Linked DNA regions of Homo sapiens. The protein of the gene in region 1 interacts with the protein of each later gene in a biochemical or structural test. Each region holds a gene or a part of one and is shown in the gene's direction. Other genes may lie near its edges. The genes, in order: XIAP, LIMA1, NOD2, XAF1, SDHA, PDCL3 and SERPINA12.

What was found.
Region 2: the proteins of XIAP (region 1) and LIMA1 form a complex in vitro, tested with the Homo sapiens proteins (one large-scale study listed by BioGRID).
Region 3: the proteins of XIAP (region 1) and NOD2 form a complex in vitro, tested with the Homo sapiens proteins (one study listed by BioGRID).
Region 4: of the proteins of XIAP (region 1) and XAF1, one has a biochemical effect on the other in vitro, tested with the Homo sapiens proteins (one study listed by BioGRID).
Region 5: the proteins of XIAP (region 1) and SDHA form a complex in vitro, tested with the Homo sapiens proteins (one large-scale study listed by BioGRID).
Region 6: the proteins of XIAP (region 1) and PDCL3 are reported together in a solved structure, tested with the Homo sapiens proteins (one study listed by BioGRID).
Region 7: the proteins of XIAP (region 1) and SERPINA12 form a complex in vitro, tested with the Homo sapiens proteins (one large-scale study listed by BioGRID).

The regions. Positions count from the first base shown.
Region 1 is NC_000023.11:123,862,565-123,867,129, forward strand, and holds part of XIAP (E3 ubiquitin-protein ligase XIAP), read left to right. Parts: intron 1-4,565.
Region 2 is NC_000012.12:50,220,558-50,225,122, reverse strand, and holds part of LIMA1 (LIM domain and actin-binding protein 1), read left to right. Parts: intron 1-2,464; exon of another isoform or gene 2,465-2,488; coding exon of another isoform or gene 2,489-2,600; exon of another isoform or gene 2,601-2,637; coding exon 2,638-3,102; intron 3,103-4,565. UniProt on the Homo sapiens protein: Actin-binding protein involved in actin cytoskeleton regulation and dynamics. Increases the number and size of actin stress fibers and inhibits membrane ruffling. Inhibits actin filament depolymerization.
Region 3 is NC_000016.10:50,724,080-50,728,644, forward strand, and holds part of NOD2 (nucleotide-binding oligomerization domain-containing protein 2), read left to right. Parts: intron 1-1,409; coding exon 1,410-1,493; intron 1,494-3,335; exon of another isoform or gene 3,336-4,371; intron 4,372-4,565. UniProt on the Homo sapiens protein: Pattern recognition receptor (PRR) that detects bacterial peptidoglycan fragments and other danger signals and plays an important role in gastrointestinal immunity.
Region 4 is NC_000017.11:6,765,388-6,769,952, forward strand, and holds part of XAF1 (XIAP-associated factor 1), read left to right. Parts: intron 1-1,964; exon of another isoform or gene 1,965-2,066; intron 2,067-4,565. UniProt on the Homo sapiens protein: Seems to function as a negative regulator of members of the IAP (inhibitor of apoptosis protein) family. Inhibits anti-caspase activity of BIRC4. Induces cleavage and inactivation of BIRC4 independent of caspase activation.
Region 5 is NC_000005.10:234,688-239,252, forward strand, and holds part of SDHA (succinate dehydrogenase [ubiquinone] flavoprotein subunit, mitochondrial), read left to right. Parts: intron 1-456; coding exon 457-652; intron 653-1,740; coding exon 1,741-1,912; intron 1,913-4,565. UniProt on the Homo sapiens protein: Flavoprotein (FP) subunit of succinate dehydrogenase (SDH) that is involved in complex II of the mitochondrial electron transport chain and is responsible for transferring electrons from succinate to ubiquinone (coenzyme Q).
Region 6 is NC_000002.12:100,565,993-100,569,492, forward strand, and holds part of PDCL3 (phosducin-like protein 3), read left to right. Parts: intron 1-510; coding exon 511-637; intron 638-2,938; coding exon 2,939-3,029; intron 3,030-3,500. UniProt on the Homo sapiens protein: Acts as a chaperone for the angiogenic VEGF receptor KDR/VEGFR2, increasing its abundance by inhibiting its ubiquitination and degradation.
Region 7 is NC_000014.9:94,506,670-94,510,908, reverse strand, and holds the start of SERPINA12 (serpin A12 precursor), read left to right. Parts: upstream 1-1,439; 5' UTR 1,440-1,567; intron 1,568-4,239. UniProt on the Homo sapiens protein: Adipokine that modulates insulin action by specifically inhibiting its target protease KLK7 in white adipose tissues.

The DNA.
Region 1 (4,565 bases):
CAAGAAAAATTTGACACCTGACGCTGTGGCTCATGTCTGTAATCCCAGCACTTTGGGACGCCAAGGCGGGCAGATCACCTGAGGTCAGGAGTTGGAGTCCAGACTGGCCAACATGGTGAAACCCCACCTCTACTAAAAAAACTAGCCGGGTGTGGTGGCGTGCACCTGTAGTACCAGCTACATGGGAGGCTGAAGCAGGAGAACTGCTTGAACCCAGGAGGCAGAGGCTGCAGTGAGCCGAGATTGCACCACTGTACTCCAGCCTGGGTGACAACAGTGCACCTTTGTCCCGAAAAAAAAAAAAATTGACACAAGGAAAATATCTGCAGCCTGGGCAACATGGCGCAGCCCTCTCTCTAATAAAAATACAAAAATTAGCCGGGCGTGCTGGCTTGTGCCTGTAGTCCTAGCTACTTTGGGGAGCTGAGGCAGGAGGATCACCTGAGCCTTGGGAGGTGGAGGCTGCAGTGAGCCATGATTGGGCCACTGTACTCCAGCCTGGGCGAAAGAGTGAGACCCTGTCTCAAACAAAACAAAGAAACAAAAATCTGAATTGTAGACTCTTTGTAGATAAGAACATATTTTTTAAAAAAGTTAAGACTAGGGCCAAGTGCGGTGGCTTTCACCTGTAATCCCAGCACTTTGGGAGGCTGAGGTGGGCGGATCACCTGAGGTCAGGAGTTCAAGACCAGCCTGGCTAACATGGTGAAACCCCATCTCTACTAAAAATACAAAAATTAGCTGGGTGTGGCGGTACACCCCTGTAGTCCCAGCTACTTGGGAGGCTGAGGCAGGAGAACCACTTGAGCCCATGAGGCGGAGGTTGCCGTGAGCTGAGAACGCAACATTCAACTCCAGCCTGGGCCACAGAGTGAGACTCCACCTCAAAAACAAATAAAAAGTTAAGACTAAAACAGTTTATAGTGATTAGGAGTTCAGCTGTCTAGTTTTGTTTTTGTTTTGAGATGGAGTTTCACTCTTGTTGCCCAGGCTGGAGTGCAATGGTGCGATCTCGGCTCACCTCAACCTCTGCCTCCCAGGTTCAAGCAGTTTCCTGCCTCAGCCTCCCGAGTAGCTGGGATTACAGGCATGCGCCACCACGCCCGGCTAATTTTGTATTTTCAGTGGAGACGGGGTTTCTCCATGTTGGTCAGGCTGGTCTCAAACTCCCGACCTCAGGTGAAAAAGTGCTGGGACCTCAGGTGAAAAAGTGAGTCACTGCACCTGGCCCAGCTGTCTCGTTTTTAGAAATAGATTAAGACTCAAAAAAAATATTGCCCACCGTAATATATCTGATTATTAGCAAAGCTTGGACTAGAGTCTAGGTTCTAGTCTAGTGGCCCTTGTACTATACCTGTAATTTTATTGCTTTCTAGTGCATTGGATGATTCCAACTAGGCTGACAAAGTAATAATATCTAAAGGTTAGCCAGGACCATTTCAATAGTTAAGAATTATTATTTTTTTCTTTGGTTTTTATTTTATTTTGTCTTCCTTTTTTTTTTCATTTTCAGGAAGTGAGCAGTTTCTCAAAATTATTATAATTAATGGACCAGCTAATTTGTATAGTGCTTAAAATATTTTAGTAACATAAATTTTACTAAATAAATTTACTAATTTAGTAAATAAATGTTCTCCTTTTATTTCATTGTAAACATTAATTTCTTTAGTAAATCCTGTATTTATATTGTAAATGTTTAGCGATAAAATAATGATATTTCACTGTTTTTGTTTGGTCTAATATTTAAGTCTGGTAGGTAGTATTAGCAGAGAGCAAAACCTACAGTTTATGAAATAAACATTCATTGAGCACTTAATGTGTTCCAGGCATTCATTGTAGTATGTGGTAGGATTCCAAGGATAAATATGGCAAAACAAATGCCTTTCTTCTGTTTTTTTTTTTTTTTTTTTTTTTTTTGAGACGACGGAGTCTGGCTCTGTTGCCCAGGCTGGAGTGCAGTAGCGCGATCTTGGCTCACTGCAGGCACTGCCTCCCGGCTTCACGCCATTCTCCTGCCTCAGCCTCTCAAGTAGCTGGGACTACAGGCACCCGCCACCACACCCGGCTTAGAGTGTGTGTGTGTGTGTGTGTGTGTGTGTGTGTGTGTGTGTGTGTGTTTTAGTAAAGACAGGGTGTCACCGTGTGTGTGTGTGTTTTAGTAAAGACAGGGTTTCACCATGTTAGCCAGGATGGTCGCATTCTCGTGTGTGTGTGTGTGTGTGTGTGTGTGTGTGTGTGTGTGTGTGTGTGTGTTTTAGTAAAGACAGGGTTTCACCGTGTGTGTGTGTGTGTGTGTTTTAGTAAAGACAGGGTTTCACCATGTTAGCCAGGATGGTCGCATTCTCCTGACCTCGTGATCTGCCTGCGTTGGCCTCCTAAAGTGCTGGGATTACAGGCGCGAGCCATCACACCAGGCCGCCTTTCTTCTTTTTTTTTTTTTTTTGCTTTTTTATGTTCGTCTGTTTTTATTTTGCTTTTGTGTGTTTGTTTGTTTTTCCATTGTTCTTTTGAGGCTGGGAGATTATCATGAGCTGTCAATTCTCAAGCTTTATCTCTGTGAGATAATCTGGTAATAGTTTTATAAAATGTAACCTGTTAGCACTATTAAAGGACATTGTGTGAGTAGATATGAAGAGACAAACAGTAGTGATAAGATAAAAAATACTTTAGAATTTAACAAATACTGTTTCTGTATCTTAGAGGTCATGTGCTACAGTGTTTGGAAAGAGCCCTACGTTGGGTACCACAGTACAGGTTATTGACTTTGTTTCCAATTAGCTGTGGGATTGTGCATGTCAATGACCCCATCTTTCTTTACATGTTCACATTTTTGATATGTTATTTTAGGTGTTGAATTCAAAACATAAAAAGGGTATTTTAAGGCCGGGCGTGGTGGCTCACGCCTGTAATCCCAGCACTTTGGGAGACTGAGGCGGGCGGATCACGAGGTCAGGAGATCTAGACCATCCTGGCACCCCTCTCTGCTAAAAAAAAAAAAAAATACAAAAAATTAGCTGGGCGTGGTGGCAGGCGCCTGTAGTCCCAGCTACTTGGGAGGCTGAGGCAGGAGAATGGTGTGAACCCGGGAGGCGGACCTTGCAGTGAGCCGAGATTGCGCCACTGCACTCCAGCCTGAGCTACAGAGCGAGACTCCGACTCAAAAAAAATAAAAGGGTATTTTGAATATTTTATTTTATTTATTTGTTTTTGAGACATTGTCTTGCTGTGTCACCCAGGCTGGAGTTCAGTGCATGATCCCAGCTCACTGCAACCTCCACCTCCTGGGTTCAAGTAATTCTGGTGACTCAGCCTCCCAAGTAGCTGGGATTACAGGCGTGTGCTACCACACCTGGCTAATTTTTTTTTTTTTGGTATCTCTTTTTTTCCCCTCGGAGACAGAGTCTTGCTCTGTCGCCCAGAGCTGGAGTGCAATGGCTGCGATCTCTGTTCACTGCAGACTCCGCCTCCTGGGTTCAGGCAATTCTCCTGCCTCAGCCTCCCGAGTAGCTGGGATTACAGGCGCACGCCACCACAACTGGCTAATTTTTGTATTTTTAGTAGAGACGGGGTTTCACCATGTTAACCAGGTTGGCCTCGAACTCCTGACCTCGTGATCCACCCACCTCAGCCTCCCAAAGTGCTGGGATTACAGGTGTGAGCCACCACACCCAGCCTTTTTTGTATTTTAAGTAGAGACAGGATTTCACCATGTTGCCCAGGCTGGTCTTGAACTCCTGACCTCATGTGATCTGCCCGCCTTGGCCTCCCAAAGTGCCAGGATTACAGGCATGAGCCACTGTGCCGGCCTTTGAGTATTTTAAGTTATAAAAGAAATATGTGTTTCTATATATATTATATAATATATATTATACATGATATATAATATATATGATATAAATTATATTATATACAATATATTATATATGATTAATATATAATATATGATATATCATATATAATATCAAAATATATAATATGTATATAATAATGTATGATATATATAATATAGTATATAATATATTACATGTATAATATATTATATATAATATATAATACAATATATGTAAAATATATATAATATATAACACAATATAATATGTAAAATATATTACATATATAATATATATATTTTTCAGACAGAGTCTAGCTCTGTCACCCAGGCTGGAGTGCAGTGGTGAGATCTTGGCTCACTGAACCTCCGCCTCCCAGGTTCAAGCGATTCTTCTGCCTCAGCCTCCCAAGTAGCTGGGACTACAGGTGTGCTACCACACCTGGCTTATTTTATTTTATGTATTTATTTATTTTTCTGAGACGGAGTCTTGCTCCTGACCTCATGTGATCTGCCCGCCTCGGCCTCCCAATGTGCTGGGATTCCAGGCATGAACCACCGTGCCTGGCCAGAGATATGTGTTTATTATAGAAAATTTATGAAATAGAATAATGACGATCATATTGTCTACAGGTTGTTTTAATCCCCCCCCCCCCTTCAACATTCTATAGTTAACATTTCTGTTTTTTTTTTTGAGACGGAGTCTCGCTCTGTCGCCCAGGCTGGAGTGCAGTGG
Region 2 (4,565 bases), on another chromosome or scaffold:
CGAGACCAGCCTGACCAACATGGAGAAACCCCGTCTCTACTAAAAATACAAAATTAGCCAGGTATGGTGGCACATGCCTGTAATCCCAGCTACTCAGGAGGCTGAGGCATGAGAATTGCTTGAATCCAGGAGGCCGAGGTTGCAGTGAGCCGAGATCACGCCATTGCACTCCAGCCTGTGCAACAAGAGTGAACCTCCGTCTCAAAAAAAAAAAAAAAAAAAAAAATGCCAGGCATGCTGACATACACCTGTAGTCCTAGCTACTCAGGAGGCTGAGGTGGGAGGATCACTTGAGCCCAGGAAGTCAAACAGCTGCAGTGAGCTATGATTACACCACTGCATTTCAGCCTGGGTGACAGAGCGAGACCCCGTCTCTAAAAAAAAATTAAAATAGGATCATGCTGTCTTATAATTTGCTTTCTTCATTCAAAAGTATCCTATGAGCATCTTTTCATGTCAATAAGTATACTTTGATCACATGATAGGTATCTGAGAAAAACAGTGTCCAGTTACCAAGGCAAAGTGCCACTTTGATTGTCAGGGCTCCTGTGTGGTTACAGTAAGGGCAGGTGAAGTCAGAGACCTAGATGACTCATCCATTGTGTGGCACGAGACCTTACAGAGCCAAGAGTGCTGCTGGCAGTTAGGGTAGAACCAGCTTCTGGAGCTGTTCTGTAATTCCTTCTTTTCCAGCAAGAAAACTTTTTAAGCTTCTTATATCTCTGATGCATACATTCTTCCCCCAATGGATCATTTTGTAAGCTAAAATTTAAACACTAGAATCAAGCAGTTCTATAATTTCTTTTCAAGCCTTATTTCTACTTGATGAAGTGGCTTTCAAGAGTATATTCAGAAGAGTAATAGGGTGAGAGACTTAATTCCCAAAATAGCTGCTAATCCTGTTTAATTCCTAGGTTGTTTGTCCTTTCTTTCTTAGTTGAAAGACTGGTGAGTCACAGACTACAGGAGAGAAGGTATTGGAGTTTGCAGTTTGTTGGGAAGGTGGTGCTGTTCAATTTATTTAGGAGTACAGTCCTTTCAAAGTACGGGACATTTAATTTAATTTAATTTTTCTTTTTTTTTTTGAGACAGAGTCTCACTCTGTCACCCGGACTGGAGTGCAGTGGCGCGATTTGGGCTCACTGCAACCTCCGCCTCCCAGGTTCAAGCCATTTTTCTGCCTCAGCCTCCTGAGTAGCTGGGACTACAGGCGCGTGCCACCACGCCCAGCTATTTTTTGTATTTTTAGTAGAGACGTGGTTTCACGGTGTTGGCCGGGCTGGCCACGAACTCCTGACCTCAGGTGATCCACCCGCCTCGGCCTCCCAAAGTGCTGGGATTACAGGCATGAGCCACTGCGCCCAGCCGGGACATTTAATTTTCAACAAGCGTGTTTCCTCTATTATGGAACAACAGTGACAATTTCCAGGTTGTTTTCAGTCTGTCTTACATGTATAAATTAATTCCATTTTTGGCCCTAGTGAAAGTGAACTCTCTTAGATATGTAAATGTGTGTCCTTTGATCATCTGAGTGATAAGTAGTGGTATTTGCATTTGAAGCCTGCATATTTTACAACCAGAGGATCTGTAAAACAGTGAATTTCTTGATAACTGAGAATTTTTTTTTTTTTTTTGGTTGGGGGATGGCGTCTCACTTTGTCACCCAGGCTGGAGTGTAGTGGCGCAGTCTTGGCTCACTGCAACCTCCACTTCCCAGGTTCAAGCGATTCTCCTGCCTCAGCCTCCAGAGTAGCTGGGACTATGGGTGTGCACCACTGCACCCAGTTAATTTTTGTATTTTTTTTAGAGACAGGGTTTCTCCATGTTGGTCTGGCTGGTCTCAAACTCCTGACCTTGTGATCCGCCGGCCTCGGCCTCCCAAAGTGCTGGGATTACAGGCGTGAGCCACCGTGCCTGGCCCTGATAAGTGAGAATTTATACACAGATAAACTTGTAGAGAAGAGCAGGGAAAAAAAAAAGATTAAATTCTTATGAAAAATAAAATTTGACTGCTCATATGCATGTAAATTATGTCAGATATAACTAAATATTTATGCAAATACTTGGAAAGTCTGGGGACTTCTCCAGGGTTCTACAAATTGTTTCAATCCTTGCTGCCACTATCCGTAATTAATGGTATAGTTTCAGCTATCCTGCAACTATCCTGCATCTTTGTCTTATTTAAAAGAAGAAAAAAAAACCCAGCAGAATTTACCATGTTATTTTATGGCAGGTAATGATGAACTTTGCTGATGTGTAGTTACAGTGTTTCAAGCACTTGTATTTTGCTTTTTCTTTCTTGTTTTTTTCCCCATTAATCTTTGGGTAAAAATCTCTTGTTTCGCATGTAACTATCATTAGAGCTGGGTTTGCCTTTCTTCTCATTTTGTCCTTATAAGGCCATCCTGTTTTATCACTTCCTGCTTCAGCTCCTGAGTTTTTCTCTCTTCCCCTCTCCCTCTCCCTCTGCCGGGTGGATGCTTTCTCCATGTGGCAAGGCTGTAACTGTTCACAGCTGTCTGAAACAGCAGTGGACCAGGAGCAGCTTGGAGTTTTAACTTTCATTTTACAAAGAACAACATGTTTGAATGTTTCAGCAGGCAAGTTATAACTGGCATCTACTTCTTGTTCTTCTAGAACACCGAAAATCTCTCCCAGCACTTTAGAAAGGGGACCCTGACTGTGTTAAAGAAGAAGTGGGAGAACCCAGGGCTGGGAGCAGAGTCTCACACAGACTCTCTACGGAACAGCAGCACTGAGATTAGGCACAGAGCAGACCATCCTCCTGCTGAAGTGACAAGCCACGCTGCTTCTGGAGCCAAAGCTGACCAAGAAGAACAAATCCACCCCAGATCTAGACTCAGGTCACCTCCTGAAGCCCTCGTTCAGGGTCGATATCCCCACATCAAGGACGGTGAGGATCTTAAAGACCACTCAACAGAAAGTAAAAAAATGGAAAATTGTCTAGGAGAATCCAGGCATGAAGTAGAAAAATCAGAAATCAGTGAAAACACAGATGCTTCGGGCAAAATAGAGAAATATAATGTTCCGCTGAACAGGCTTAAGATGATGTTTGAGAAAGGTGAACCAACTCAAACTAAGGTAAGAATTGGGCGGGTTTGAAACTTGAGAAAGCCAATTCAAGCACTAAACAAAGCTGTTTTTCCAATCTAGCTATTTTGAGTAGAGGCGAATATGTGGTCAGTATGTCTTTTGATTCCAGTTAGATAAGTTAATAGTCTCAAATGCATTATTTACATAGATGCTAAGATTTGTGAGTCTCTGACACAATTTCATGTTAAATCAGGTTCACACTGGGATTCAAATTGGTATCTAGAAATGAAGAGAGTTTAATACCGATTGGATTATGTGTTTTTGTACACTTGCCCTTTTAAATTGTCTTCCTGTGTTCTTTATCATTTGTAGCTTTGGGGGTGGAATTACTGCTGAATAGCTCTCTGCTTGGACACAGCTGCAGACTGAGTGTTAAGGCCGGAGTTTAACATTAAGACTGAGGCTTACTTGTCTCTGCTAGCTGAATCCCTTCTCTTCTTCTCAACTTCCTCATCTGTGCCTTCCAACAAATGTTTTCTATCAGCTAAAATCCTCTCTCAGGCAAAATCAATGAAGATAGCCAGACTAGCTATAGCTTTCGGGAGTTTTGACTTGCAAATGCACAGGGTTGCGTTTTCCTACAACTGCTAATGAAATTTGATCCTTCATGTGGATTGCAGACCTCGTCCCCAGAGGGAATTACTTAACTAGAAAATGAGTTACATATGCTGGTGATTTATAACACAATCCAGAGGCCACAGAGCTGGTAAATTTTTCCAGTTTTCTCATACTTTCCTATATATCTGGCTTTGTACATGGGGATGGTTCGTTACAACAGTCGTTATAATGAAATAAACAGACCTGATGGGGAGCAAAACCATCTGTTACTCTAGATTCCACCTAGATGGGAAAGCTGGATTTTTTTTAAGCTAAATATTTGGCCCAAGTCCCTATGTTTGGAAAGTAATATAATAATATTAAGCATTCTTTCTGAGATAAAAAATAACTCATCCTGTAGTCTTCAGTTATATTAGATGTGATATTGTCAATCCCTTCCCATGACTTGCAGTGCCAGTCACTTTTCTACTTAGAATTAGAAAAGTTCTTGAATGTTTGCGGGTCATGTTTGAAGTTGTGCGAGTTTTTGACGATGTGTAAAGCTACAACACTTCTCTGTGCATGAGCTTTAGCTCTACTTTAACAGTGAAACCAGTTGGCAAGAGATGTAACCACAAAGCAGTTTTATAACGTTTCTTAACTCTCTTCCCTCTCAAGTTTTTAGACCTTTAGTCCTGCCAACTCCTTCTTTCCCCTTTATGGTTTTAATTTAAAAATTTGTTTTATTTAAATGGGAAGAAGAATTTTAAGTGGAAGGAAAAAATGTCAGAAATCCTAAATAGAGAGGAAGGGGTTTTGTTGTGACTCAAAGCACCATTGTAAGTCTCCTCCTCCCAGACCCTGCTAGGAACAGGACAGCTGATGTCATGCCAGTACACACAATGTAGATTCAG
Region 3 (4,565 bases), on another chromosome or scaffold:
ATTCTAAGTTTCTCATCCTTTAGATGCCACTAGTATAGTTTTCTGACATGTTCTGGGCAGCTTCAGATTATGTCAGGGAGATAAAATACTGAATGTTTGATTTTCCCGGGAAGCAGAAAGGCACTGCAACATATGGGCATTGCCATAAACAGATTTTATGGATGGACCTTGGCTGTTGCAGGGCTTACTAGCTCTACTCAAGTATGATTGATTCTATCCTGACTGGATTTTGCCACTTGGAATTTCTTAGTAGAGGAGAACCTTGTTATGAGAGCATCAGTTATGATTACTGTTAAAAGAAAAACTTTAGGCAAATTAAATTTAGCAGAACTGGTTTGAACATACAGCAATTTATGAATTGGGCAGCATTCAGAACTGGGAGTGCTCCACCCAGCAAGGTAGGCAAGCAGTATCTATAGACAGGAAAAGGAAGTGATGTACAAAACAGCTTGATTGGTTGCAGCTGGGCATTTGCCTTATATGGGCATGGTGTGATGAGGCATTTTCTTTATATGGATATAGACTGATCAGCTGGTAGACTGTGACTGACTGAAGCCTGGCTGCTGTGATTGGCTAAGACTTAGCTGTTTGTTATAAGGATATGTTGTTAGGTTGCAGTTTGCTACATAGGAACTCAAAGTACAGAGGCAGTCTCAGGCCAAATTTAGTTTAACTATATGTTAAGCTGCAGGTGACAGAATACCTCCATCTATAGAGGTTTAAACAAGGAAAGGGTTTATTTTTTCCTGTATAGGCAGCTGGATGTAGGCAGTGTAGGGTTTGTACAGTGGCTACAAGAGGCCAGGAGGGGTCTCAGCTCTGTCTCATTCTCTTCCTGTTCCATCATTCTTAGCCTGTGACTTCATTCACATGGTTGGTTGTCTCATGATCACAGGATGGCTGCTCCAGGTGCAGCACTACTTCTGTATTCCCGGATTCGATCTATATACCCAGGAAAGCCATCTGGGTTCTCTCCTTTAAAAAGCATTCCTGGAAGCCCCACCTGTCGACTTCCCCTTATGTATCAACCATGTGTATGTCACTTGACCAACCCACTTGTATGTTGTTTGACCAGCCCTGGCTGCAATGGAGAGTGGGAAATACAGTTTTTTCACCAAGTGCATGGCTGTCCAAATGAAATGAGACTTCCATTAATAAGGAAGAAAGGAAAGATGGAGATCAGGAAGCTGGGGGATCAGGGAACTTATTACATTGAGAGCCCTTGGAGTGAATTCTCTTGCAAATATGTCCCTGGAATTGAGAATCCCCACAACGTACTTTATCTGTTCTTTCTTTATCCATGAGTTTGGGTTTTCAGATGTTGGATTTCCTATATGGGGGGCATGTGAGTTCATCATCTTCCATAATCAATGTTGTATCAACTGGATTTTCTCTCTTCTTCTCACCAGCCTGGAGGAGAACCATCTCCAGGATGAAGGTGTATGTTCTCTCGCAGAAGGACTGAAGAAAAATTCAAGTTTGAAAATCCTGAAGTAAGGAACCCATAAGCAGGAAACAGGACAATAATTGCTGGCCTTTGGAAGGGGCATTTCTGAATAAGATCTGGGCCGCTCTCCGCTGGGCTAACTCATGTGAGGTGGCCTGGTAGAACAGCTTGCCTTGGTCTAGGTGGACAAGGATTCCAGTGCAAGTTGTTTATCTGGGAGGTGGTCCCAGTAAATGCTGATAGGAGAGTGGTGAAGTGAGATGGGGAAGTGAAGGTAACCAATAAAGGGGAGTTATCAAGCCAGTTATCAATGAGGGAAATTGGAGCTCAGTACTCTGGGGCACTCCTGGAGCCAGTGCAGAACACACATGGTCACCTACCCAACCAATGGGCAAGAAAGCCATGGCATTTATCCACCAACCCTCTGTCCTTCCTATGTTGATGTGCGCTCATGGGGCACTGATTCTCCAGCACTTCCAGCTCACCCTCACCCAGCTGAACATGCTTCTGGGGTCAGGAGAATGGCCTCAGGCAGAGAGTGGAAGGTCTTCTCTGCAAGCAGTGGCTGGGGAGGTGATGTGATGGGGAGTACTGTGGCCTCCTCCAGTGGCTGACTCAGTGGCTTGGGACTTGTGCCACAAAGAGATGGACAGCTCAGGTGAACATGAACCCACCTAGTGACCATCATGGGTTTGTCAGGGTGCTCTCTGAGGCTGATGCCAAAATTCTTATTTCAAGTAGACCTCAGGAACCCCATCAGATGGCTCCTTTTGCTGGAGGAAAGTGGCATCTGCCTAGGCAAATGTGGTCCTAGGAAAACGCTTGCCTTTAGAGACAGACAGACAGACAGCTGCCTCTGTGAGTGCCAGCTTTGCTGCCAGGCTGCTACCCACTCTGGCGACACTCATTTGTGTTGCTTTCACAAGCTAGGAAGTTTCCAAATATTTGGAGAAAACACTTCCACTAATTATTTGGGTGGAAATGGGCTGGGAAGTTGGGGTGAAGCCCGGATGTGTCTGAGCCAGATGCCAGCTTTGCACTGAGGGTCGGCCTTTGGGAATACCAAGCCCATTATCAACCAGGTGTGGATATGGCAGGTTTGTCTTCCCTCCTTGTCACAGCCTTACTCCACTTGACTCCCATGGATGCCAGGCAATGAGGCTGGGGTTGGTCCCATGCCACCCTGTCATCAGCCTTATTTTTCAGCATCCTAAACTATATCATCCCCCACAAAAATTGAACTTCTGATATATCTTTTATAAAAAAGAGAAATGCCTACATCTTTCTTTTCCAGGCTTAGTTTCTGCCAAGAGTTGGTTGAGAGCCCAGGCTTGCTGGGTGCAGTGGCTCACACCTGTAATCCCAGCACTTTGGGAGGCTGAGGCGGGTGGATCACCTGAAGTGGGGAGTTCCATACCAGCCTGACCAACATGGAGAAACCCCATCTCTACTAAAAATACAAAATTAGCCGGGCGTGGTGGCATACACCTGTAATCCCATCTACTCAGGAAGCTGAGGCAGGAGAATCACTTGAACCTGGGAGGTGGAGGTTGCCATGAGCCAAGATCACACCATTGCACCCTAGACTGGACAAGAGAGAAACTTCCATCTCAAAAAAAAAAAAAAAAAGGATGAGAAAAATAATAATTTAAAAAAAAGAGTCCAGGCTCTGGAACCAGACAGCCTGGGTCTTACCCCTGCTCCACCATTACCAGCCAGTTCTTCTTGGATGAGTGCCTCAGTTGCCTCAAGTGTAAATGGAGATAATGGCTGGACCTTCATTATAGGCCATGAGCATTCACTGAGAGAATGTAGCTAACAAAAGTGAGTTGTAGGTTGGAGCAAAAGTAATTGTGGTTTCAGACCATGAACTTTAAATTATTATAACTAGGCTAAAATACATCTTTATTAATCAAAATAGGAACCATTAAAATCAACACATTTTTGCCAATAAGAAATAAGTTTGTTTATTCCTGTAGCATAAAAATTCATGCTTCGGGATTCAACAAACTCTTGGAAAGCATTTTCTGCATCCTCCTGGTTGTGGAAGCATTTTTCCTGCAGAAAGTTGTCAAGATTCTTGAAGAAATGGTAGTCAGTTGGCTAGAGGTCAGGTAAATATGGCGGATGAGGCAAAACTTCATAGTCCAATTCATTCAACTTTTGAAGCTTTGGTTGTGTGACATGCAGTCGGGTGTTGTCGTGGAGAATTGGACCCTTTCTGTTGACGAATGCCGGCTGCAGGTGTTGCAGTTTTCAGTGCATCTCATTGACTTGCCGAGCATACTTCTCATATGTAATGGTTTCGCAGGGATTCAGAAAGCTGTAGGGGATCAGACTAGCAGCAGACCACCAGTGACCATGACCTTTTTTTTTTGGTGCGAATTTGCCTTTGGGAAGTGCTTTGGAGCTTCTTCTCGGTCCAACCACTGAGCTAGTCATTGCCAGTTGTATAAAATCCACTTTTCATCGCACGTCACAATCAGATCAAGAAATGGTTCGCTGTTGTTGTGTAGAATAAGAGAAGATGACACTTCAAAATGACGATTTTCTTGGTTTTCACTCAGCTCATGAGGCACACACTTATCGAGGTTTTTCACCTTTCCAATTTGCTTCAAATGCTGAATGACCATGGAATGGTCGATGTTGAGTTCTCAAGTAGTTGTAAGAAAATCAGCTTTGATGATTGCTCTCAATTGGTCATTGTCAGCTTCTGATGGCCTGCCAGTACACTCCTCATCTTCAAGGCTCTTATCTCCTTCGCAAAACTTCTTGAACCACCACTGCACTATACGTTAGTTAGCAGTTCCTGGGCCAAATGCATTGCTGATGTTGTGAGTTGTCTCCGCTGCTTTACAACCCATTTTGAATTCAAATAAGAAAATTGCTTGAATTTGCTTTTTGTCTAACATCATTTTCATAGTCTAAAATAAATATAAAATAAACAGAAAGTATTAAGTCATTAGCAAAAAATCATAAAGTGAGAATTGTGCATTAAAATGATGTATAGCATAACCACATTTATTTAAGAATGTATTCCAATATCAAATGGCAAATTTCAACAATGCAAAAACTGCAATTACTTTTGCACCAATCTAATAGAAGTTCAATAAATACT
Region 4 (4,565 bases), on another chromosome or scaffold:
GGGCGACAGAGCGAGACTCCATCTCAAAAAATAGATAAATAAATAAAAATTTAAAAATTTTTTAAAAAGCCATATGTAGTCAGACACTTCCAAATTTATATCTCAGTCTGGGTTTTTCTCCCCAAACTCTAGATTTGTATATTACTATTTACTGCATCTTCACTTGAATGCTTGATAGACATCTTAAATGTAACACATCTGAAATGGAATCCTCTCTGCCACAGCTTGGCCCATCTCAGTTGATGGCAACTCTATCTTTCCAGTTGTTCAGGCCAAAATCTCAGGTTCACTCTCGACTTCTCTTTCCCTCCGCATTGCTACCCTGGTATGAACCATCATCTTCTCTAGCCCAGATGCTGCAGCAGTCTCCTAAACGGTCTTCCTACTTCTCACCTTGCCCCCTACAGTCTATTCTCATCACAGAGGTCAACGTGATCCCTTAAAAATACAAGTCAGATTGTTTGGCTCCTCTGTTCAGATCTCTGTACTGATTCTTGCCCCATTTTATGCAAACTCAAAACTACAGTGGCTTTAGAGATCTATGTCATCTTTGCCTCCCTTCTTATCTCATCACCTCTTTGATCTCATGTACTACTCCTGTTCAGCTCACTGGCCTCCTGATTGTTTCTTGAGCATACCATGCCTTAGGGCCTTTTCACTGGCTACTGCCTCTGGCTGGAAGCTACCTCCTCACCTTCCCCACCCTACTCCAGGAGCTAACTCTCTCACTTCTCTCAAGTCTTTGCCCAGATGGCACCTTCTCAAGGAGATGTACCACAACAACCTATTTAAAATTGCAACTCCCTCTCCATCACATATTTACCAACCCCTTACCTTCTTCTATTATTTTTTCCATAGCATTTGCCAACTTCTAACATATTATCTAATTTACTTACTTATTATGGCCCTTGTTAATTGTCTCCCACGACCTCAGAAAAACTATAAGCCCCACTGGTCCCCTTCATGCTAACTACTCCCCAGACACAAATACTCTACTTTTGCTTTTAGCTGTTTCTTCTGGTAATCACCTTCATATGTCTAAAGCACCTTCTTATATTTTTTCCAGTTTTAGATATTACTTATTGACTCATAAGGATTTAGGAATATAGATTTCACTTTTTTATACCACCCATCCCACACACACACCTCCAAAGTTCTTCATTTCATCCTTCCAATGTATTGATTTCACTCATTCTGGTTAAATAAATATTCAGTATTACATTAGTATAACCATGTAAACATTATAAATGGTTTTCCACATGAATTGTGATTATGTGTTCTTTCTCCTACAACTTTTTGTTTTACCTGGACTTAATAATTGCTTCGGTTTTTCATTTGCTTCACTTTCTAGGTACCTATCACTAAATCATCCCTAAAATTCTCTACCAGATCTGAAAATTCCCCTGAGTACAACTACACACATCAGATAGTCTGTCCATTTCATTTTGGGAGCATGTTATGCCCCAGGCTTGATGATTAGCTGTTGGTCTGGAATTTCTTCCACTCTCTCCACGGTTGGAGTTCTGATTCCCAAATCTCAGGTCTCATCTTTCTCTTTCTTAGGTTACTCCTTGTTTGATAGAACATATCCCCAAATAGTTTCTTGAGAAAGAAAGCATGAGAGGCAAATTTTTTAGGCCTTATATGTCTGAAAATGAAAGCTTGGGTGGCTATAGAATCTATTGACCATCTTAATCTGTTTATTAAAAATCTTATTACAATTCTGATTTGGCCACTACACACTGTATACATGTATTAGAAAATCATTCTGTATTCTATAAGTATGTATCATTATTACTTGTCCACTAAAAATAAAAGAAATAAAATTGATTACAAAAACTTTCAAATAAATATGACAGTAGAAAGTTAATACAATAAACATTCATGTATTTACTCCCCAGATACAACAGTTGTTGTTCTAAACAAGGTGAATAAAAATAAATCTACTCTTAGATACATTACAGGTAAAAGGCAAAGGTTGATTTCTTTGAAATCAGCCGAAGAAGATTACAAGCAAAGGAATGGCAGTTAGGCTGAAAGCAAATATATCGACAGCAATAATAGAAGTGGGTATGCAGTGGAATAATCTTCAAAGTGCTAAGAGAAAATAGCTGTTAACACGTGGAAATCAAAAGTTTTCCAGGCTTGAACTATACTTTGTTTGTTTTCTTTTTTCTAAAGTATGTTAAAGCAAATCCAAGATATCCTGTTATTTCACCATCATTCTTTAATATCTCAAAAATACAGTCATTTTCTTAATCACAATGCCTTTATCACTCTCAATGATGTTAACAATAATTTTCCCCCATCGTTTTGGGGCCTTGCATTTACCACTCTTGTTCATTACTACTGCTGCTGCTGCTGCTGCTGCTGCTGCTTGCTTCTCCCTTGTATTCTATTGGATTGAGCAAGATTTCTTTATTCTCTTTCTTCTTTCCTACTGATTCGTCAATTTTACATTTATTTCTATCATTTCAATAGTTACCCTTAACATTTTAATATAAATACTTGACTTAATAAAGTCTAAAGTTAGTCATTATCTCTACTTTCCTTACAAATAGTATATAGATTTGAGAACATGTTAACACTGTAACTATCTTACATGAAAATGCTGCCAGAATTTTGTTTCATTTTGCTTTCATACTACCCCTCTTTACTGATTATTGTTGTTATTTATGTAACTCATGCCTGTTTAGATATACTCACATGTTTTTGTTTTTGCTTTTTTTCTTTCTTTCTTTCTTTTTTTTTTTGAGACAAAAGTCTCACTCTGTTGCCTGGGCTTGAGTGCAGTGGCACGATCTTGGCTCACTGCAGCCTTCGCCTCCTGGGTTCAAGCAGTTCTCCTGCCTCAGCCTCTCAAGTAGCTGGTACTACAGGTGTGTGCCACCACGTCTGGCTAATTTTTGTATTTTTAGTAGAGATGGGCTTTTCCATGTTGGCCAAGCTGGTCTTGAACTCCTGACCTCACATAATCTGCCCACCTCGGCCTCCCAAAGTGCTAGGATTACAGGCATGAGCTACTGTGCCCGGCTGGATATACTCACAAGTTTACCCTTCTCTTTACTCACATTCTTCCTTGGATCCTAAGCTTTCCTTCTGGGTATGATTTCTCTCTTCCTGAAATACATCTCAGTAGCTTCTTCACCAAGAACCTTGAGTAGTAAATCTTTAGTTGCCTGAAAATAAGCTTTTTGTTTTTTGCATCCATGAATGATAGTTTAGCTGGATATCAAAATCTAGATTAACAGCTATTTTCTCTTATCATTTTGAAGATTATTCCACTGCCATCCCACTTCTGTTATTGCTGTTGATGTATTTTCTTCCAGCCTAATTGCCATTCCTTTGTACGTAATCTTTATATTTGGTTGATTTCAAGATCCTCTTTGCCTTTTACCTGTAACGTGTTTAAGAGTAGTTTTATTTTTATTCATTCTGTTCAGAACAATGTACTCAAATGTGTTTGCTTTTCTCCTGCTCAGGATTTCTCTTTCCTTAATATAAAGATTTATGTCACTAATCAGGCCTGAAAATTCTCATCTATTATCTCTTTGAATTCCCAACATTCCCCAACTCTCCCACATTCTCTCAACTCTCCTTCTGGAACATAACACATGTATATTAAGCATTCTCATTCTAGCTTCATGACTCTCTTTTTTTTCATGACTCTCCTTTTTTTTCATTTCTCTCTTTTAATCGCCTTATGTCTCTTAACCTTTCATATTTTCTCTATTTCTATCTCTTATATTCTGGGTAATTTCCTGAAATTATCTCCAAGTTCATTCATTCTTTCTTGGCCAAATCTAATTTTCTGTTTTTAGCCCATCCATTTAGGTTCAATACCTGCATTTTTCATGTCTAGAAGTTCAATTTATCTTTCTTTCAAATTTGCCTATTTTTGTTCTCACTACAAAAAAAAGATAGGTATGTGAAGTGATTGATATGTTAATTAACTTGATTTAATCATCCCACAATGTATATATATATTAAAATATCACATTGTACCCCATAAATATATAAAGTTATTATTTGTTAATTACAAATTAGAAAATTTCAAATTTACCTGTTCTGTTTTTCATGAGATGTTATTCTTTTCCCAGATTTAATCATTTTTAATTAATTTATTTTACAGTCTCTATCCTATAGTTGCATTACCTGAACTTCTTGGAGGCTAATCTGACTACTTTTGTGTCTGTGACTCTTACTCAAGGTGGATTGCTTCCTTGTGTGTTTGTAATTTTGGATTGTGAGTTTCTATCTGGTGGGACTCTACCTATGAGGATCCTCTATGACCTATTTTGAGGCTGTTGTCCCTCCAGAGGAATTTTGTGATTGCTTCTGCCAGACATCTCAATGTTTATGTTAATTCTTCTGCTCAGGGATTCCCAGACCATGAGGCCAAAGTAAATCCTAATCCCACACACAGGAATGGCATGGACCTGTGATTTTGAGTTTTCAGGGGCATAAGTTTTCATCTCCACACTCAAATACCGACCCAAGAAAGAAAAGCTTCCTTGCCACTTTCCTTTTCTCATTAGCTGATACTTTTCCTCTTACCCACCATA
Region 5 (4,565 bases), on another chromosome or scaffold:
GAGGATGATTTAAAGTATAGAGGAGGATGTGCATAGGTTATATGCAAATACTCTCCCATTTTATATTAGGGACTTGAGCATCCACGGATTTTGGTATCCGTGGGGGTCCTGGACCCAACCTGCCACGGATACGCAGGGACGACTGTATTTGGCATAGAGGCCTTTCTAATGCACTTACCAAGGACACCTGCAGCAGGCTGTGATCCCTGAGACGAGCGTGAGTTTAGTGAGGGCAGAGTTTTTGTTCTGGTTCTCAGCTGTGTCCCAGCACCTGGGATTGTCCCTGGCACACAGTAGCTGCTTAGAAAAGATTTGATGAGAGGGTGACCATACATGAGGGGAAATTTTCCTCAGTATCAAAACATGTTGAAACTCACACACTTCCAAGATGACGTATTCTCAGGTCTCCTGCCGTTGCCGTTCTCTGCCGTATGTGATGGTGTTCTGTCTTACCAGAGGCTGTGGCCCTGAGAAAGATCACGTCTACCTGCAGCTGCACCACCTACCTCCAGAGCAGCTGGCCACGCGCCTGCCTGGCATTTCAGAGACAGCCATGATCTTCGCTGGCGTGGACGTCACGAAGGAGCCGATCCCTGTCCTCCCCACCGTGCATTATAACATGGGCGGCATTCCCACCAACTACAAGGGGCAGGTGATGGTGCTGGCTCCTCCCCCACAGCTGGAAAGAAGGCTGGGACGACGGGGCCCACCTCGCAGTTGTCTCTTTAGATCTTACAGGAAAAGATAGATGTTTCCTTCAAGAAAGTACTGTATTGTTTTCTAGATTGCACTTTAAATTTCTATTACCGGAGGATGGAGGGGGCTTAATAATTTATTCCTCCTTAGTAAATTGTCAGAGATACATCATTTGCAGCTTTTTCCATTTTGTAATTACTTTCCTATATGATCTTGTGTTATTTCTAATGATCTTACACATCAAGGGATCTTTATAATTCATTCCTTTGAGTGGTTTGTGGTTCACACAGAGCTTGTCAGTCACTTAGGCTCCTTGTTGGGCGAGGTGGGTGGAAGCTGTTGCTCTCCCTGCGTAGACGAAGAGGTGAACGGGGTAGAACAGTCTGGAACATCAGTCTCCCCTGCTGATGTTCCTCCACCTGCCGTGCTCCTGGGTCTGAGCCGGAGCACAGGTGGTGAGGGCCCCGGGAACATGGGACACGGGGGACAGTCGCAGATGCTGACATTGGAGGTCCTCTGACCTGCTTGTAACAGCAGGTGCTCAGGGGCAGAGGGGAAACTGGGGGATACCTTCGGAAGCTTCCCTCTGAAGAAGAGTAGCTATGGTCCTTACTTCCCTCTTAGATACGGTCTTTACTTCCCTCTCTTTTTTTTTCTTGGAGATGCAGTCTCACTCTGTTGCTTCGGCTGGAGAGCAGTGGTGCGATCTCAGCTCACTGCAACCTCTGCCTCCCAGGTTCAAGTGATTTTTCCGCCTCAGCCTCCCTAGTAGCTGGGATTACAGGCACCCGCCATTATGCCCCGCTAATTTTTGTATTTTTAGTAGAGATGGGGTTTCACCGTGTTAGCCAGACAGGTCTTGAACCCCTGACCTCAGGTGATCACCCACCTCAGCCTCCCAAAGTGCTGAGATTACAGGCGTGAGCCACCACGCCTGGCCTACTTCCCTCTCTCTGACCTGCAGCACAGACACCCTGTTGGGGAAGGTGGGCTGGTGGAGGCATGGGCACCTTGACATTTCACCTGAAATCTTCCTTTCCACAGGTCCTGAGGCACGTGAATGGCCAGGATCAGATTGTGCCCGGCCTGTACGCCTGTGGGGAGGCCGCCTGTGCCTCGGTACATGGTGCCAACCGCCTCGGGGCAAACTCGCTCTTGGACCTGGTTGTCTTTGGTCGGGCATGTGCCCTGAGCATCGAAGAGTCATGCAGGCCTGGTAAGTGTTTTCTTCAGGAGCCAGACTATTTGAGAAGGCGCAGGACGTTAGAAAGTCTTTTTTCTTTTTTTTGAGAAAGGGTCAGCCCAGGCTGGAGTGCAGTGGCACAGTCATAGCAGCCTCAACCTCCCGGGCTCAAGCAGTCTTCAACACCTCAACCTTCAGAGTCCCAAGTAGCTGGGACTACAGATGTGCACCACCACACCTGGCTAATTTTTAAAAAAATTTATTTTGTAGAGACAGGGTCTCACAATATTGCCCAGGCTGGTCTTGAACTCCTAGACTCAAACAGTCCTGCCTCAGCTTCCCAAAGTATCGGGATTACAGGCATGAGCCACTGCACCCAGCCAGGTTACAAAGCCTTGATTTCTTACTGGAAATTTGCTTAGTGATCATATAGAGGTAGTCTGGGTTTTTCCCCCAGAAGTGATTAAACTGAGAAATCCAGAAATTATATGGTGGTAATGTTGAGACTAGATAGAGGCTGGTTGGGGATCTTAACAGTTAAGGTGACATTTTTGGGGTTACATTTTTTTTTAATTATTTTGCAGTCATTATGTTCTGTTTAGAAAAAGCACTATTAGAAAGTTGTTATTTTTAGGGGAATCATTACATATTACTTGCCTGATAAAAATCACTTATTTGCAATGAAATATTTTAAGTAGTTGGCATGAATGAATATGTAACTTCTTGGTACTTAGAAAAGTAATTTAGGCCATTCTAGAAACAAAGTACAGCTAGCCTCTATTAGAGGAGAAGGGATGACTTACAGTGAACAGGATTCCCACCCTTTACGGACAGATTGGATTTCACTTGCTGGTTTTCTTTTCATGATAGCATCAAATAATGTGCAGTAAAGGAAATACCATGTGTGGGAGTGTGAGTCTTACGTGCACTAAGAACGGGGCAGTTAGCATCTCTCCCACCTCCAGACATCCTCACGGTGGTTATCCAGCCTCGTGTGCTCAGAACAGTGTGAGGTGGATGAGGCACTGGTGGATGTTTGCGTGGCAAGGATGGTGGGACCCCAGGCCCATGTTCTTCCCGTTACCTTTCTCTGGTGTTAACTGTTAGCATCATTTCTGCTGTTTTTATACAACAGGTGCTTTTTGTATGGATTCAAGTGAAATAAAAACTAGCACGGCTGTAACTTATAAACGTGCCCCCTTTTGTATCTGTAGTTAGAAAGGTGCAGATAGTATTAAAAGGGTAGCTTACTTCAGACACTCTGTCTCTGGATCTGACCACCGCTCGGGAGGCCAGCACACGCAGAGCTGGCGTCTCATCCCCAGCCATTGGTGATCATCGGCGAAGGCGGAGTTCAGGTCCATCGTTCCTGACGCCGCAGGTAGTGCTTGTCTCACTCCATAGCCCTGCACTTTGTCGCAGTGAGGACTGATACCACTTCTCTCAGAGCAATGTAGAAATTTTGAGCTGCTCTTTCTTTGAAAATGCAAAAAAGAACATTTTGTAAGAATACCCTATACTTTACATCTGAGAAACCGCCCACGCATGCAGCATCTCACGCAGAATGCTGTGGAGTCAGACTCAAAAGGCTGCATGCCTGTGGTTCTGTTGATACGACATTCTGGAAAAGGCACATCTAGGGAAGACAAGGGATTGGTGGTTGCCAGAGGCTGCTTCCTGATTGTGCTGAGACTTACAGACACAACTCTGTGTGTGTCAAAATTTGAAAAACCCTACACTAAAAATGATGAGTTTATTTTACTGTATCTTTATGCTTTAATTTTCAAAAATGAAAAGGAAAGAAAAAATGCTTGTAGCATCACTATTCTCCCCCAAAACCCCCTGCAAAAAAAAATACATATATATACACATATATATGTATTTTTTTTTTTTAAGAGATAGTCTCCCTCTGTCGCCCAGGCTGTAGTGCAGTGGTACGATCAGGTGCACACCACCACACCTGGCTAATTTTTAAAAATGTTTTGTAGGGACAGGGTCTCCCTGTGTTGCCCAGGATGGGCTTGAACTCCTGGCCTCAAGTGTTCCTCCTGTCTCAGCCTCCCGAAGTGGTTACATGCGCCTATACATGTGTTAAAATTGGTAGAACTGAGGCTGGGTGCAGTGGCTCACGCCTATAATCCCACCGCTTTGGGAGGCCGAGGCAGGCAGATTGCTTGAGCTCAGGAGTTCGAGACCAGCTTGGGCAACGTGGTGAAACCCCGTCTCTACCAAAAATACAAAAATTAGCTGGGCATGGTGGCTCACACCTATGTAGTCCCAGCTACTTGGGAGGCTGAGGTTGGAGGATTGCTGGAGCCTGGAAGGCAGAGGTTGCAGTGAGCCAAGATCACACCACTGTACTCCAGCCTGGGCAAGAGAGGGAGGAGACACTGTCTCAAAAAAAAGAAAAAGTAAATTGTAGAACTGTCCACCTAAAGAAAAAAGTCAATTTTACTGAATGATCAATTTTTAAAGCATTATTATCAAAAGGAAGAGAAACACCAGCGAGCCTAGAAGCATTTGAGCAGACCCTCAAGAGACCCATAGCCTGGTCCTGTGGAGAGGTGGTGGGCGGGGTGGGGCCTGTTTGACTCCTGCATTTCATACATCCTACCTCCTGCATGTATTACCTGTTGAAGAAAATATATATAACGTTATAAAAAAAACTTAAAAACTTTTTTCAAGA
Region 6 (3,500 bases), on another chromosome or scaffold:
TCCCGGGTTTATGCCATTCTCCTGCCTCAGCCTCCCAAGTAGCTGGGACTACAGGTGCCCGCCACCACGCTCGGCTAATTTTTTGTATTTTCAGTAGAGACGGGGTTTCACCGTGTTAGTCAGGATGGTCTCTATCTCCTGACCTCGTGATCCGCCTGCCTCAGCCTCCCAAAGTGCTGGGATTACAGGCGTGAGCCACTGTGCCCGGCACTCTCAGTCATTATTAAAAATATTGAACACATGCCAAGTCAGAGCCTTGGTATCCGTATTGATACTGATCTGCACTCCCTATCCTAATTTTTACCCCAAGAATAGCTCCTCCATTCAGGGAGGGGTAGACAGGAAAAACAAAACGGGGGCTATGGATCTTTTGACACTTTCTCAGAAATAGTTCACAGACTGGTGTGCATTCCTCCCTTCCTGTCACTTTTCCCATTTGGCCCCTTGCCCAACGTGGCACCCTACATACTAGACTTAGCACTCATGGTAACCTTGGTCCCGCTCTTCTAGGACCCCAACGCAGACACTGAATGGAATGACATCTTACGCAAAAAGGGTATCTTACCCCCCAAGGAAAGTCTGAAAGAATTGGAAGAGGAGGCAGAAGAGGAGCAGCGCATCCTCCAGCAGTCAGTGGGTGAGTTCACTCGCTTTCCTCTGCACCTGTCTGGGTTAGGAGATGGCTCCCTAAGCCTCTGACTGCCCTGCCAGGAGACAGGTTGGAGTGCCAGCATGGACACTCTGTGTCTGTGGGACCTCAGACAAAACACAGGGCGTCTCTCACCTTCACCTTCCTGAGCCATAGACTTAGGGGACTTCAGATATGTCCCACAAGTCCTTGTCCATGTCACATGAGCACTGAAGAAAATACTTCTTTCTGCTTTCTGGTCTGTGATTCCCTTTGATAATGTCATGGAAATTTGTTCAAGGTTTTTAGTACTTGTATTTTCCTGAGCATATACTTTATTTTCTGTGGTTTCATTGAGGATATTAACTAAAAATTGCTTCATTTGGGGAGGCATAAGATGTTTGCAATGTGTGGGAGTCTGAGGGGGGTTTTCTCAAAGGCAGTTGTACTGTCTGAATTGGAGTCCCTTGGAGTGCTGGTAACCCCACCCACCTAGTGTTTACTGAAGCAGTCTCTGGAATGAGGCCCAGGAATCTGCATTTTAAACAAGTGCCTTAAAGGATTCTGATGCGTGTCATAGTTTGAGAAGCACTGGTCCCAGGGACTAGTACTTTTGTCCTCTGTTGACACATTAGAGCTAATTTAGAGAAGGATTTATTAGAAAGTATCCAGCGAGTGCTTACTGCATGATTATCATTGTCAGGTGCTTTTCTGGGGTTGGGGATTTAGCTATGCATAAGCCAGAGACAATTCTCTGCCCTCAGAGAACCAACATTCAAGTGGGGGAGACAGACAATAAACAATAAAGAAAATAAGGCAGTAAAAGGGACTAGAAAGGGTTGGAGGAGAAGCAGGCTCAGAGAGGGCCTCACTGAGATGACATTTGCATGGACCTGAAGGAGGTGAAGCTGGCATTTGGGTAAAGACCTGAAGGAGCTGAAGAACACATTTGAATAGACCTGAGGGAGTTGTTGAGACCTGAAGGAGGTGAAGAAGACATCTGGGTATTCCTGAAGGGGGTGACGTGAGCGAGTGAAATATGGGCCCTGGCATGGCTGGGAATCCCTGAGGAGCTGGAGGCGCTGGGGGAGAGAGTTCAGAGCAGCCTCAGCAGACCCAGAAGCTTCTAGTAAGGACCTTGGCCTTTACACCTAATGAGGCAGGAAGCTTTTGGATGTTTAAACAGAAGAGTGACATTTTCTCTTTTTTGTTTTTTTTTTGAGATGGAGTCTCGCTCTCTTACCCAGGCTGGACTGCAGTGGCGCAATCTTGGCTCACTGCAACCTCCGCCTCCCAGGTTCAAGCGATTCTCCTGCGTCAGCCTCCCGAGTAGCTGGGATTACAGACATGTGCCACCACGCCTAGGTAATTTTTTGTAGCGATGAGGTTTCACCATGTTGGCCAGGCTGGTCTCAAACTCCTGACCTCTAGTGATCCGCCCACCTCAGCCTCCCAAAGAGCTGGGATTATAGGCGTGAGCCACTGCACCCAGCCAAGGGATGCATTAACTTGGAGATCCCTATTAGACAAATAGCCACATTAAGAGGGCCCTTGGGTATGTTTTTCTCTACATTAGAGAAGTCTGGGCTGGAGGCCTATACTTTGGGAGTTGTCAGCATATTGATAGCACTGAAAGCCATGAGATTAGATGCAATCACCGAGGGAGTGGGTGTGGATAAAGAAGAAAAGTAGTCAAAGGTTTGAGCCTGGGGAATTTTAATCAGCAAAGGGTTCAACAGTAGGGCGGCTGGCTCACTCCTGTAATCCCAGCACTTTGAGATGGGCAGATCACTTGAGGTCAGAAGGTTCAAGACCAGCTTGGCCAACATGGTGAAACCCTGTCTCTATTAATGATACAAAAATTAGCTGGGTGTGGTGGCACACGCCTGTAATCCCAGCTACTCAGGAGGCTGAGGCAGGAGAATTGCTTGAATCTGGGAGGCGGAGGTTCTCAGTGAGTCAAGATCGCACCATTGCACTCCAGCCTGGATGACAAGAGTGAAACTCTGTCTCCAAAAAAAGGAAAATAAGCGGGGCAGGGTGAGGCGGAATAGGAGAAGAGAGGGGAGGAGGATCTGAGGGCTTGGGTAAAATGTTGTCAGTCAATAAATTGGGATTACAGGTGTGAGCCACCATGCCTGGCCTCTCAGCTTCTAATGTAGTGTGGTGCCTTAAGTAATTTTTGTTTAGGTAGGCTAAGGATCTGGTGTTGTGTGCATATCTTTAGGAGAAAAGAGAGGGGAAAAAAGAAAAATACATGTTCGTTCATCTTTTTAAATTTTTGCTTTTTGCCAATGTAACCAAATTCAGTGAAAACATATGAAGATATGACTTTGGAAGAGCTGGAGGATCATGAAGACGAGTTTAATGAGGAGGATGAACGTGCTATTGAAATGTACAGGTAAGCGCCACCCAGAGGGGCTGTTTGTTTTTTTGTTGTTGTTTGTTTTGTTTTGGTTTTTTTTTTGGCGTGGCAATAAAATGTGTGGGCTGAGCATGGTGACTCATACCTGTAGTCCCAACACTTTGGGAGGCTGAGGCAGGCAGATCGCTTGAGCTCAGAAGTTTGAGACCAGCCTGTGAAACCCCGTCTCTATAAATAATACAAAAACTAGCTGGGTGTGGTGGTGAACGGCTATAGTTCCAGCTACTCAGGAGCCCTGGAAGTGGAGGTTGCAGTGAGCTGAGACTGTGCCACTGCACTCCAGCCTGTGTGACAGAGCCAAACTCTGTCTCAAAAAATAAAATGAAATGTGTGTCCTTCAAAAAATTAATTTTCAGCTGAAACATCTAGGAGCGACTGCAATTAAATAATATTGTGAATTTTAGCAAACTGATCTTAGATTTTTGCCATAAGACCAATAAATAAACC
Region 7 (4,239 bases), on another chromosome or scaffold:
CTTATACCTGTGCTCACAGCTTAGCTCCCACTTATGGGCAAGAACATGCAATATTTGGTTTTCCATTCCCGAGTTACTTTAGTTAGAATAATGGCCTCCACCTCCATCCAAATTGCTGTAAAGGACATTATTTCATTCCTTTTTATGGCTGAGTGGTATTCCATGGTGTGTATATACCACATTTTCTTTATGGATTTATTGTTTGATGGGCACTTAGGTTGGTTCCATATCTTTGAAATTACGCAACATGTGTGTGCATGTGTCTTTTTCATATAATGATTTCTTTTCCTCTGGGTAGATACCCAGTAGTGGGATTGCTGGATGAAATGGTAGCTCTCCTTTTAGTTCCTTAAGGAATCTCCATACTGTTTTCCATAGGGGTTGTAGTAATTTACATTCCCACCAGCAGTGTAAAAGTGTTCCCTTTCACCACATTCATGCCAACATCTATTTTTTTTATTTTTATTTTTTACTTTTTAATTATGGCCATCTTGTAAGAGTAAGGTGGTATCTCATTGTGGTTTTCATTTACATTTCCCTGATGGTTAGTAATGTTGAGCAAATGCTCTTTTTTTATATCCTCTGTTGTTCTGCTCTTCTACCAGCATCTAGATCTGGCTTGAATGACATTTAGCACGGACTTGGGTCTATATTATTTTAAGTGAAATTGATTGACAGCATGACTTCCAATAGTTTGGCTCTCTCAGGCAACCACAGATCCAATGCAGTCTCCTATTGCCCATTGTACAGGTGAGTACACTGAGAACCAGAGGAAGGGATGGCTTCTCCAGCCACCAGGTGCATTATGAGTCACCTATGTCTGGTACCCAGACCACAGGCCCAGGCCCTGAGACGTCCCAGAGCTCGGGAGTGGGGTGGGGTTGGATGGATGGGCTGCCTGCTCCCAGGCTGCACCTGGGAGGTGAGAGAGGGCCATGTGAACATCTGTGCCAGGCGGCTGGTATTCTATAGCAGTGCCAGGGTGCCCACACCCATTCCTGTCCTGTCCCAGGGAAGGAATCTGGGGTGGACGATTCTGCTCAAAGATGATCACAGGGATCAGGGCTGTGGAGCTGGGAGGGGATGGCGTGTGTCACTCTGGTTTCTGGTGCACTCACTTTTATGAGGTTTACTGGGTGCCAAACACTCAGGTCCTAGCAAGCCAGGCCCTCATCAGTGAATCTACAGAGCACCTTGGGTGTACCTAGCACAGTGCCCCTTGCTATTTGGGATGGGAGAGAAAAAGTAGGCCTGATCTTTCCCAAGGGGTGAGGAAGGGAACTCCCAGACGCATTGCTCTCTGAGTGAGACACTTGGCAGGGCCAGTTGGCCAGGCTGATCCTGGGAAAGGGGTGGAGGTGGCAGAGGCAGGCTTAGTAGGTCGTTGGGCAGAAGTCCACCCAGTTTGTAGATAAGGCTTGTGGGGCTGGGAGCCTAGAGGAACATACCTGGAACCTGAAGGCTGCAGGACCAGGACCGAAAAAGGACTAGGAGGCTGGGATCAGCAACAACTGGGGAAGGCCAAGGAAGACTGACCTGAGGGGAAAGGAGAAACTGGGGAGGTGAGGTTAGTCCAAGGGGCAGTGTGTGTGTGTGTGTGTGTGTGTGTGTGTGTGTGTGTGTGTGTGTTGTCTGTTTCTCTGTCTTAGAGAAGACAACCAAGGGCCAAGGTGATCACTCAAATAGACAGACATTCTGCGTCCTTCTCATGCCTAGCCCTAGGGCTGGATCACCAGTCTGGCCAAGAGTTCCATGGGTCTGTGCTGGCTGCCAAGATGCTGTGGCCATGCTTTCATTTATGGTCTACCAGAAAGCTATCCATGGAAAAAGGGATTCAGAACCAGAAGACCTGATTTTTGAGTCCTGAATCTGCTAACTGTGCAGCTATAGGAAACTCAGATTTCTCATGTGTAAAAATGGGTCTAGCAGCACCCAAACTTGCAAAGTTGGTATGAAAAATACATAATGTCTATGAATAACCGTATCTACTAATATGTGCATGGAAGTACCCTGTTCTGCAGAGACAAAGACAAAGAAGAAAATAAGATGAGGAAAATCAAAGCTGGCCCCCACCCACAATGTTTCAATGCATATTTACCCAAATTTTTTACTTTTTGCTGATTGAGAAACACATGTGGTTACTTATTGATATATATAAGAACTCTTAATTGTTAAGAACATTAGCTCTCTATCTTGTACACATGTTCCAATTTGTGATTCCAAATTTTACATATTCTGTAGAGTTTTAACACGTTGCAAAAAGATGGTATATCCATATATGCCATCTTTTCCTACATGGTTTCTGGCTTGTGTATCACACTTAGGAAGTTCTTTTTCACTCTAACATTATGAAAAGGTTTTATTCCAACACTTGTAATTTTATTTTTGAAATGATTTGTTTGTTTCCTAATAGCATTTATGGAATTGTTCACCTTTTCTCGAATGTTCTGAAATGCCATCTTGAATTTTTTACTATTTACAGAATGCTTCCCATTAAAAAAAAATTTTCTAAATTTTCTATTTCTCTCCTTTTATTTCTTACTTGTTTAGATTTTTGTGTGGAAAGATTTTCAACATTTTGTACTAGAAGCTTTTTAGGGTAACCTAGGATCTTACCGGAGATTGCTTAAAAATATTTTCTTTCAAAATCAATTATTATTAATTTTAAATCATTTATTGATTAAGCTCCCCAATTGGAGTTGAATTCAATGACTGAAAATACATTGCATTTACTCAGTCTTTGCCTTATTGCTTGGAGGTACAGTATAATTTGTTCTAGTGGGATTTGGGCTTTGCAGTGTTTCACACTCTTGGTCACTGGCTCCCATAGCTGTCTGTCACAAGCATCAACTGGGGATCCTGTGGAAACCAAAGAAGAGTGGGGACACCCAGGGAAATGCAAAGTATGATCTGGGATGGTGGCCAGGAATCTCTTTCTCTCTCTCCCTTCTCTACTATAAATGGACATCTGGGTTGTTTCCACTTTAGGTCTATCACATAAAGCTGCTATGGACATTGCAGTACATGTCTTGGTAAACCCACAAGCACTCATTTCCTGTTGGGCATATACCCTGAGGTACAATGAATGGGTCAAAGGGTAAGCATATGTTTACCTTTTATAGATCCTGCCAAGCAATTTTCCAATCAACACGTTGGTGTCGGTTTGCACACCCACCCGCAATATAAGAGAGTTCCACTTGCTCCACGTCCTCGTGTGGCTGGTCCTTTTAATCTGAGCTATTCTAGTGGGTGTGTAGTGAGTTCTTCTTGTAGTTTTGTTTTGCATGTTTCTGATGATTAATGATGTCGAGCACCTTTTCAGCTGCTTATTGGCCATTTGGATATCTTCTTTTGTGAAGTATTTGTTCATGTCTTTGCTTAGTTTTTAAGTTGTTGTCTTTTTTCAGTCGATTTGTAGAAGTGCTTAAAAACAGGCATGAGCCTTTTATCAGACACAGACATTACACGTACCACTCCCAGCTTGTGACTTGCCTTTGTACTGTCCTAGGTAATTTTAGAGGAACAAGGCTCTTAATGTTAATGAAGTTCCATTTATCATTTTGTAAAAATGGTTAATACTTTCTGCCTATCTCATGGTCACAAAGATTGTCTACTATTAATATATTTTCTTCTAGAAGCTTTATCATTTTGATTCTTGTGGGTTTTGAGGTTAAAAAATATTAAAGACCAATAGTTTCATATAGTCCAATCTAATACCTTTCACATTTAGGTCTGTGACTTCTCAAATTAATTTTTGTATGTTGAGTAAAATAGTCACTATTTATATTTTTCCTGTATGGACATCCACTGGTGTTTTGTTGTTGTTGTTGTTGTTTTCATCATTCATTGAAAGGATCATCCTTTCCTTTGAACTGTAGCGATGCCCTTGTCACATATCAGGTGACTTCCTGTGTGGCTCTGTTGGATTCTCTAGTCTGTTCCATTGGTCAGCTTGTCTGTCTCTGTTCCAATACCTTAATACTGTGGCTTTACAGCCATCTTGATACCTGGTGGCTGAATGCTTTAAAAGACCTGGGAATCATCAGGTGGGAATCACTTGCTTTGGAGTGGGATTCTCAACCTTGAGTACTCATTAAATCCCCTGGAGAGAAGTTCTTAAAGGCACCCTCACCCAGGATTTATCCTGCATCAACTAACTCAAAATCTCTAGAGGAATGTTCTGAAAATAGGTATTTCTAAAGCTCCTGGATGATTGTAATGCACTCCCAGGATGGAAAC